2 linked regions of the Homo sapiens genome follow. The protein of the gene in region 1 purifies or fractionates together with the protein of each later gene. This does not show direct contact. Each region holds a gene or a part of one and is shown on either strand. Other genes may lie near its edges.

Evidence for each region.
Region 2: the proteins of ZNF32 (region 1) and NRDE2 purify together in Homo sapiens (affinity purification with mass spectrometry; one large-scale study listed by BioGRID and IntAct). This does not show direct contact.

Annotation. Positions count from the first base shown.
Region 1 is NC_000010.11:43,645,883-43,650,358, forward strand, and holds the start of ZNF32 (zinc finger protein 32), read right to left. Parts: upstream 3,000-4,476; 5' UTR 2,920-2,999; intron 2,918-2,919; exon of another isoform or gene 2,703-2,917; intron 2,138-2,702; exon of another isoform or gene 1,687-2,137; intron 1,328-1,686; exon of another isoform or gene 1,230-1,327; intron 416-1,229; exon of another isoform or gene 321-415; 5' UTR 252-320; coding exon 182-251; exon of another isoform or gene 158-181; coding exon of another isoform or gene 76-157; exon of another isoform or gene 60-75; intron 1-59. UniProt on the Homo sapiens protein: May be involved in transcriptional regulation.
Region 2 is NC_000014.9:90,328,838-90,333,279, forward strand, and holds the start of NRDE2 (nuclear exosome regulator NRDE2), read right to left. Parts: upstream 3,105-4,442; 5' UTR 3,068-3,104; coding exon 3,004-3,067; intron 1-3,003. UniProt on the Homo sapiens protein: Protein of the nuclear speckles that regulates RNA degradation and export from the nucleus through its interaction with MTREX an essential factor directing various RNAs to exosomal degradation.

The sequences.
Region 1 (4,476 bases):
TTGCTCTGTTTCTACTATTACTTCTAACTCCAGCTCACAGGCTTTTCTTATAACCCTAGGAACAGCAAGCTCTACCAAAGCAAGGTCTCCTCTGCTTCCTCAGACTGCCGACCAGTGCTGAGAACAGGGACACTGAATATCTGTGAGCTGAGCGCATCCAGCCATCAACTGACTCACTCACTGAAGAACGCTACATTCTGGGCATATCTTCCATGACAGTCCAGCAGGGTAGCTGTTGGAAATCCAAACATGTCCACTCCTGCTTACGACCTCAGTCACCACCTCTTCATATGATTCTTCCATGGGCTGTTCCTGAGCACCTGAGGGAGAAAAACAAACAGAAACAAACAGGAAAGGGCAGAATAATTGATATGTGAGAAGGAAAAAGTCAACAGTTGTTGAGACATAAGTGAATGTAAGAAACCTAGATTGTTTGACATAATGTCAGTTACTAAAATATCACTGCAAAATGGGCCCAAAGGTACCAGGACCACACACAAATGAGTCTAGGAGGAAGCAGGATGTGGGAAAGCAGAGAACACATAAACATATATCTCTTCCTGCCAATCCCAAGTTAATAGTCACTCCTGTTTACACTTTGGTCTTGGCATGTAATTGGGATCTTCCATTTTGGTTCCCCACCTAACCACCTACTACTTTCTTCCCTCCAAGCCCCAGAGGAATTCAGAATCTAAGAAAACAACATTTCAGCCTTCATGATTGGTTGGAGCCAATCAGCTCTCCAGTTATCTGTAGTTACAAAGACTTAACAAGAGAGTCCATTTGTTACCACTGAACAATTCTTAGGAGGCTCCAGACCCAGACTCGCCTTTCTCTTGCTCTTGAAGATACAAGAATACCAGTTCTGACCAAGTGTAAACACTTGTCAATTCTTGGAAAAGAAAGACCTACTCTGGACTCCAAGCCCAAGGCACTCCAACTAGGTTAAGTAACTTGCCCAGAAACCCACAGAAAATAAGGAGTCAAAGTGGAGCAAAGGTTCAAATCCAAGACTTTCTGGATCCAAAATGTATGCTCTTACATTAGACAGTTGTCTAGTTCCTAATCACTAAAGAGCTGGTCAGAATGCTTATAAAATTGAACAGAAAGGAAGAGAGTTTGACCAGATTGAAGTGCTCTTTCAGATCCTAGGAATCCTCTTGTATGTGCTCTAAATTATTTTTTAATTTTTTTAAAATTCTGAGTCAAGATTTTGCTCTGTTGCCCAGGCTGGAGTACAGTGACTCAATTACAGCTTGCTGTGACTTTGAACTCCTGGACTCAACGGATCCTCCCACTTCAGCCTCCCAAATAACTAGGACTACAGGTAAGCACCACCAAGCCTGGCTAATTTTTAAAAATTATTTTAACTTTTTTTTGTAGAGATCGGGTCTCATTATCCTGCCCAGGCTGGTCTCCAACTCTTGGCCTGAAGTGACCCTCCTGCCTCGGCCTCCCAAGACATGTAGGCATGAGCTACTACACCTGGCCCACATGATCTATTTTTTAAAAAAAATATTTCTTCTTACTTCAGGATCCTAATTACTGAATTCTTATACTTTTAAGAAATGCAGTGGTTCAATGCATACTCCTTGTTTCCCTCTAATTTGTCCTATCAAAATGCTGGCCTTCTGATTTAATGAAATAATAGTATGATGCTACCATTCTTTGTTTTGTCAACCTAAGCACCTGGTTCTTCTTGACAACTGCACATTCTGCTACATGCTGTGATGACCAGGAGAATCATTTAAATTTTTATTTGGAGGACTCACTTCCAACTTGGAACACAAGCTGCAAAGGAATTCCCTACCAGCATGCCAGCACATCATTTGGAAGTTCAAGGTATTCTTGCTCAACAGCTGCACACACATTAAAAGTCCCTGGGGTACATGGCGCCTGCTGCCTGGGGTTGGACTCTGTCGCCGGGGATTCCAGAAATTAGAGTAGAATTCACAGCTCTGCCTCTCCACCTGCTGTGAGGTCTTCAAGTTACAACTCCGCCGCCTATCAGGGACCTCCGTGATTAGTAAGGGAGAAATTGTCATATTTTTCTCCCTAGATCACAGGTCTGAGGAAGCAGTTTCCCCAAGATTTTGTAAAAGTGGCTTTATAATTAAAAACATTGATTTTCCTATTAGAAAGGCTACTATATCCTTTGGAAAAAGCTTAGAAGTAGTCCGTGAGTCTTGGCTTCTTGCCGTGGCTCCCCCAGGATATGATCTTGGGCGAGTAACCCAGCAGCCCTGACTCTGCTTCCCCACTTATTAAACAGGTTACTAACACTGTCCTATCAGGTAGGACAATGAGAAGGAAAGAACCAAACAAGAGGAGTATCAGACGAGACCACCAGACTTAAGATCTAAAATCCGGCGTCCTCTGGAGGGCGGATGAGAAGAGGGGTACACTTGGCGGTCTGGAAAATGTCCTGGGGCCAGTTTCAGGTTTAGGAGCTTGTGGGTAGCGTGGTTTCCCACACGCTGCCTGGCTTCCTACTCTCCCCCGCAGGGGCTGCCTCTCCTCCCACCCCGGAAGGCCGGCACCGGCTTCCCGCACTCGCTGAAGCCCGCACGGAGGCCGGGTGAGCCTGCCGCGGCCTCCCCCTCCCACGCCCCGACGCCATGGGCCCTGCTCCTCTCCGCAGACGCTGCCCTCCCGCCTCAGGCCCCGGGCCCCGGGCACCGGGCCCGCCCTGCGTCCTGAACCTCGGCATCCCGCTCTCCGGTCCACGGGACCCTGCTCTGCGGACCGCCGACCTCTCCGCTCGCGGCTGGCCTCCCTCGGGGCCCGGGCCGGCCAGGCCTGCTCATTTCCTTGGCGGCCGCTGGCATAAGGCGGCCACACGGAGGGCCCGGGACAGCGGTCTGATGGCGCAGCCCCGCCTTGCCCCGGCGCTCTGACCCGGCCAGCGGCCTCACTCACCGCAGCGGCGCGTGCCCGCAGACAAAGGCCGGCGCCGAGCCCGCAGCAGCGCCAGCGCCGGCGCCGGCGGAATGGACTACAACTCCCAGGAGTCTCCCCGCGAGCCCGCCCGCCGGGCCGTGGGTCTCGGCGGCCCCGGCTTCCCAAGAGCTCTGTGGGAAATGTAGTTCTCTGGCGCGCCCTGCGCTCGGGCCCCGCAGGTCCCTAGGGCGCGGGGACCTCAAGCCGTCCCGTTTGGACTGGTAATCCGGAGACTCACAGCGGTGACCTGTCAGCGGACGCGGAGCCGGGACGGAGCCACGGCCGCTCAGATTAGCAGGATCTGATTGACAGCATCGGGGTAGCAGACGCTGAGCCAGGGACTCAGGAATACAGGGTTCTTGCAGGGCGTCGCGGAAGGAAACGAAGTTTTTGGGAGAAATCCGTTTGATAAAGCCTTGGCGGCTTCGAGGTCATGTGTTGAGCCTCTGGCTGCATGAACAAAAGCGAAGCCCGCTTTCATGGAGCTTCTGTGAAGAGCAACAGGAACACAGGCAGTCCAGTCGTCCTGAGATACTGGGAGGAGCATGGTTGCTTTTGAACACGTAGGAGATAAAGCCTCTCTAATAATGCCTGTTTTTTTTTTTCCTTCACTCTGTCTCCCAGGCTTGAGTGCAGTGGCACGGTGTCGCCTCACTGCAACCTCCGCCTTCTGGGCTCAAGTGATTCTCCTGCCCCAGCCTCCCAAGTAGCTGGGACTACAGGTCTGTGCCACCATGCCTGGCTAATTTTTTTGTATTTTTAGTAGAGATGAAGGTTTTACCATGTTGGCCAGGCTGTCTGATATGCCTTAAGCCTCTTTTAAACGCACTTTTCCAGGATCGGGGCCACATCCTGGAGCTGTTCTGCCTGGCCGGGTGTATCTCTGGGTCCCTGCCTCTGGAGCCCCTCTCCGTAGATGTGTCTGTCCATCCTCTTTCGTGAAGGACTAATAAAGAATGCTTCCTCTTGCTATGTTCTTGTTCTCTACCCCAAAGCCACAGATTTGTTAAATCAAACAACTTAATTTCACTCAATATGCAAAGGTGTCTGTAAGTAATAAGTTGATTCCTAAATGTTAGCTTTTACTATTGCACATCATTTCTGAATTTCATTCAACATTTATCCGTTGAATCCATTTTAAGTGCTGACACTGGGGATACGAATGTGAGCAAGACACACTCCGTGCTCCTAGGGAGGAGCTGACAGTCTGGTGGAGCAAACAAACACCACCTTCCTCACATGGGGGTCGGGGTGTTGCACAGCTAAGTCCCAGAGTGTGTGGTGCAAACTGTCCTGAAGCTCCCCATTCCTGAACTGCCCCAGGTGGCTCCTCTCCTCACTCCTCCCAAGTCTGAGAAAGGGGTGGAGGGCGGCACACAGCAAAGGCCAAGGCTCAGAGTCCTAAGGCTGCGGCCTCTGCTTCACACAAGGGTACATAGGTTCTGTTAAGGTCAAGACCGGCTGTGGACACTAGGACAAGTTTCAGATCCTGCCGTGAAGGTACATGACAAAGCATTGGTGGGAAAAGGTGGCTGT
Region 2 (4,442 bases), on another chromosome or scaffold:
AAGGAGAGGAAGAAACCGATTTATACTGAAAGAGACCTAAGGCATATATCCACAAAATGCAATGTTGGCTGTATTTTGGAAATTGACTTGGACAATCCAACTGTAAAATCCCATTTTTGAAACATCTCGTGAAATTTGAACACTGACTGGTAAGTGAAAATGACCAGAAAAGAATTAAGGCTTTTTTCCATTACAAGAGATGATGCTGTGTTTATATTTTTTCAAAAGACAATACTTTATAAAACATACTTTTACACACATTTTCCTGATTGTAGATATCCAGAGGATGTCAAATAAATACTATTTAAGAGTAAGACTCCTCTGCAAAAGTTCGATTTCCCCCTCTCAAAATAAAAGGATAAAGCTTTGACATGTTATTAAAGATCACTATCCTCCATCACCACCAGCCCAACCATATTTCCCAAGGCTCCTCTTTATGCCACTACACCTCCAGACAAACTAGATGATTTGCAGTTCTCACACTTTTCTTCTGCAGGACTTGAAGGCCCTGGTATACACTTCCCCCATTTTATTTGTCCAAATCCTACTCTCTTGAAGATCCATCCAAAACTTAGCTCCTGGCTAGGCACAGTGGCTCACGCCTGTAATTCCAGAACTTTGGGAGGCTGAGGCAGGAGGATCACTTGAGCCCAGCAGTCTGAGATCAGCCTGGGCAACATAGCAAGACCCTGTCCCTACTTAAGAAAAAAAAAAGTAGGCTGGGTACGTTGGCTCACACCTGTAATCCCAGCACTTTGGGAGGCCGAGGTGGGCGGATTATCTAAGCTCAGGAGTTCAAGACCAGCCTGGCCAACATGGTGAAACCCCATTTCTACTAAAAATACAAAAAATTAGCCAGGTGTGGTGGTGCATGCCTGTAATCCAAGCTACTCGGGAGACTGAGGCACAAGAATCACTTGAAGCCAGGAGGCGGAGGTTGCAGTGAGCTGAGATTGTGCCACTGCACTCCAGCCTGGGTGACAGAGTGAGACTGCCTCAAAAAAAAAAAAAAAAAAAGTAAAAGAAAAAAATATTAGTTCCTACATAAAGCCTTCTTTGAACCTTCTATTAGAAGTAATTATTCCTGGGCTGGGTGTGGTGGCTCACAACTGTAATCCCAGCACTTTGGGAGGCTATGGTGGGCGAATCACTTAAAGTTAGGAGTTCGAGACCAGCCTGGCCAAAACAGTGAAACCCCATCTCTACTAACAATACAAAAATTAGCCGGGCATGGTGGTGAGTGCCTGTAGTCCCAGCTACTCGGGAGGCTGAGGCAGGAGAATCACTTGAACCCAGGAGGCGAAGGCTGCAGTGAGCCAAGATCGTACAATTACACTCCAGCTTGGGCGACAGAGCAAGACTTGGTCTCAAAAAAAAAAATAAATAAATAAATAAATAAAAAGAAGTAATTAATCCTGCAGTTCACCTATGGTATCTGTAATATCCCACCTTGTACTATACACTTCTTTTAGGTGCACTCATGCATTCCTGCAACACGTAATTATTAAGTAACTACTATCGATCTGTACATCCAGAAAATATTTATTGAACACCTATTATACTTTGGACCTGTGCTAGGGGCTAACTATGCTACAATGAATAGACAAACACTGCCCAACCTGATAGAGATTACAGTCTAGTAAGGGAAGACAACAATTTTACACAAGAAATTACTCACAATTATGAGAAATAGGACAAGCGCAGTGGCTCATGCCTGTAATCCTAGAACTTTGGGAGGCTCAGATAGAGAATCGCTTGAGCTCAGGAGTTCGAGACCAGCCTGGTCAACACAGTGAGACCTCGTCTCTACTAAATATTAAAAAAAATTAGCCAGGCCTGGTGGTGCACACCAGTAGTTCCAGCTATTCATGAGGCTGAGGCAGGAAGTTAAGCCCAGGAGTCTGAGGCGGCAGTGAGTTATGACAGTGCCACTGTACTCCAGCCTGGGCAACAGAGTGAGACCCTGTCTCAAAAAAAAAAAAAAAAATTAGGAGAAACGTTACAGAAAGTGTAGGAACTATATTAGAGGATATAACAGACAGGTAAGACTCAATTGCGCCCTGTCACATATGGCACATAATTTAGAATTACTTTTTTTTCTTTTTTTTTTAGAGACAAGGTCCCCCCACCCCAGGGCAGGATGCAGCGGCACGATCATGGCTCACTGCGGCCTCAAACTTCTGGGCTCAAGCAATCCTCCTACCTCAGCCTCCTGAGGAGCTGATACTATAGGTGTGCACCACCACGCCTGGCTTTTTTTTTAAGAGACAGGAGTCTCGCTATGTTGATCATGATGGTCATGAACTCCCGGGCTCAAACTATCCTTCCACCTACAGGTGTGGGCCACTGCTCCTGGCCAGGATTAATTACTTCTTAAATGAACTATGTACCCCAATTTTGAACAATGCAGCTCTGCTGGAAATGTCTGGGACTTAAGTAAAATGTGTAAAGCCATAACCTGATACACACTAGGCCCTCAAGAATAAATGTTAGTTATTTTCACTGGGTGCTGTGCCCCTCCAGAGAGAAACTGATTAGGTTTTGGATACTAATCCCCTAGCTCTAGGCCGCTAAGTAATACCAATCTAATAAGCATTTCAGAAATAAGTATAACAGGAAAGGAAGTAATATGTAATAAAAACATTCTGCATTTGCATCAAGGGTTTCCTCGAGATGTCGAGTATCATTATTCCCAATTTAAAGATGAAGTAACTGAGGCTCGAAAAGAAGAACAGGACCTAACAACATCGTACAGAAGTCCCAGCTCCAGGGCATCTGCTGGTCTTTCTCCACCCCTCCATAACTCTACAACCTTGGTCCAGAACAGGCCTCTGGGCCCCAGACCTCGGAGGGATTGAGCCTTTCCCAGAAGGCTTTGCAGCGCCGCGGAGAACTCTGGGATACAAATGGATACACAAATCCAAAGCAAAAGTCTAGACCTGGGCCCGAGAAACAGCCTCTTAAGCCCCCCAGGTGCCTTCTTCGGCTCGTTTGTGTGCTTACCTTTCCTGGAGCTCCCGCCATCGGGAGCCTCACTAAGCCCCGCAAAGGCTGGGAACAGCGCCATGACCACAGGCCGTACCTCCGTTCTTCTCTATAGGGATGGCGCCGGCGAGCGAGCGCCGGTCTGAGGACCCCTGCCGTCGCGGTGCACTCTGGGAAATGTGGTTTTCGCGGCGCTCTCTGGGGCTTGACCCCGAAGCGGGAGGGGCGGGGCCCAGAGAGGAGGGTCGTCAAGGGACTGGGGCGCGGCGGGGCAGGGAGAGGCAGGGCAAAGCAGGGTGGGGCGGGGCCAAGGGGGGCGGAGCGAGGAGTGACGGGTTCCTAGTGGTTGGGACCCTGTGAGAACCGGAACTGCGAAAACCGGAGAAGGGAATTGTTGACCGCGAAAGGGACTAAGGAAATTGGGATTCCAGTTCGACCCCTAAATTCACACCATCCTTGCTAACTGGGTCAACTTAAACGCTCTAAGCATTACTTTCCTTATCTGCAAAATATTGAGAAGATTAAATGAACATATTTATAAAGGGCCTAGCATTGAGTCCGGCCCATGAAAAGCACTTAATATGTGTTAGCTATTATGTGAATTACGACTGCAAGTTCGGCTCAAAGTCATGTGAGATATCCGAACTTCAATCAGGTTACCATATTAAATACCCCAGAACAAGGAAAAATGGAAAGTCCCATCAAGTTCAAGGGTCTTTGATAGTTAGGAAATACCTGTCTGTGAAGCATTCTTGACCCCGGTTCCTCCCACCCAAAATCTAATCACACTTGCTACCAGAAATATAGAGAGTAAAGGAACAACTTAGAAGACTTTGTACTACCAAGAAACAATTAGCCAAATCTAGAATATGGGAAATTATAGAAAACAACCGTGCTTCCTTAACATATCAAGGGCTTTAAGAGGGCAGGAGATTGTAATAGATACGAAGATCTTACAGACACATCAAGCAAATACAACATATTTGTGGCCTCATTATAATTCTGATTGGACAAACTGTAAAAAGACCTTTTTAAGATAGATGGAGAAATAAGAAGGTAGGCAGAGTACAAGCAATTCACAAGTAATTCTTGTGAATTCTGTTAGATGTACTAAAGTACTTATGTCACTGAGGTGACCCTTATTTATTTATTTTGAGACAAGGTCTCCTTCTGCCACCCAGGCTGGAGTGTAGTGGTACGATCTCTGCTCACTGCAGCTTCGAACTCCTCGATTCAAGCAATCCCCTCACCTCAGCCTCCCAAGTGGCTGGAACCACAGGCATACACCACCATGTCTGGCTTAATTTTTTTTTTTTTAATAGAGACAGGGTTTCACCATGTTGCCCAGGCTGGTCTCGAACTCCTGGGCTCAAGCGATCTGCCCCCCTCTGCCTCCCAAAGTGCTGGGTGCCTGTGCCTGAGCACCCCCCAACCCAGCCTGAGATTACTTTTTAAAG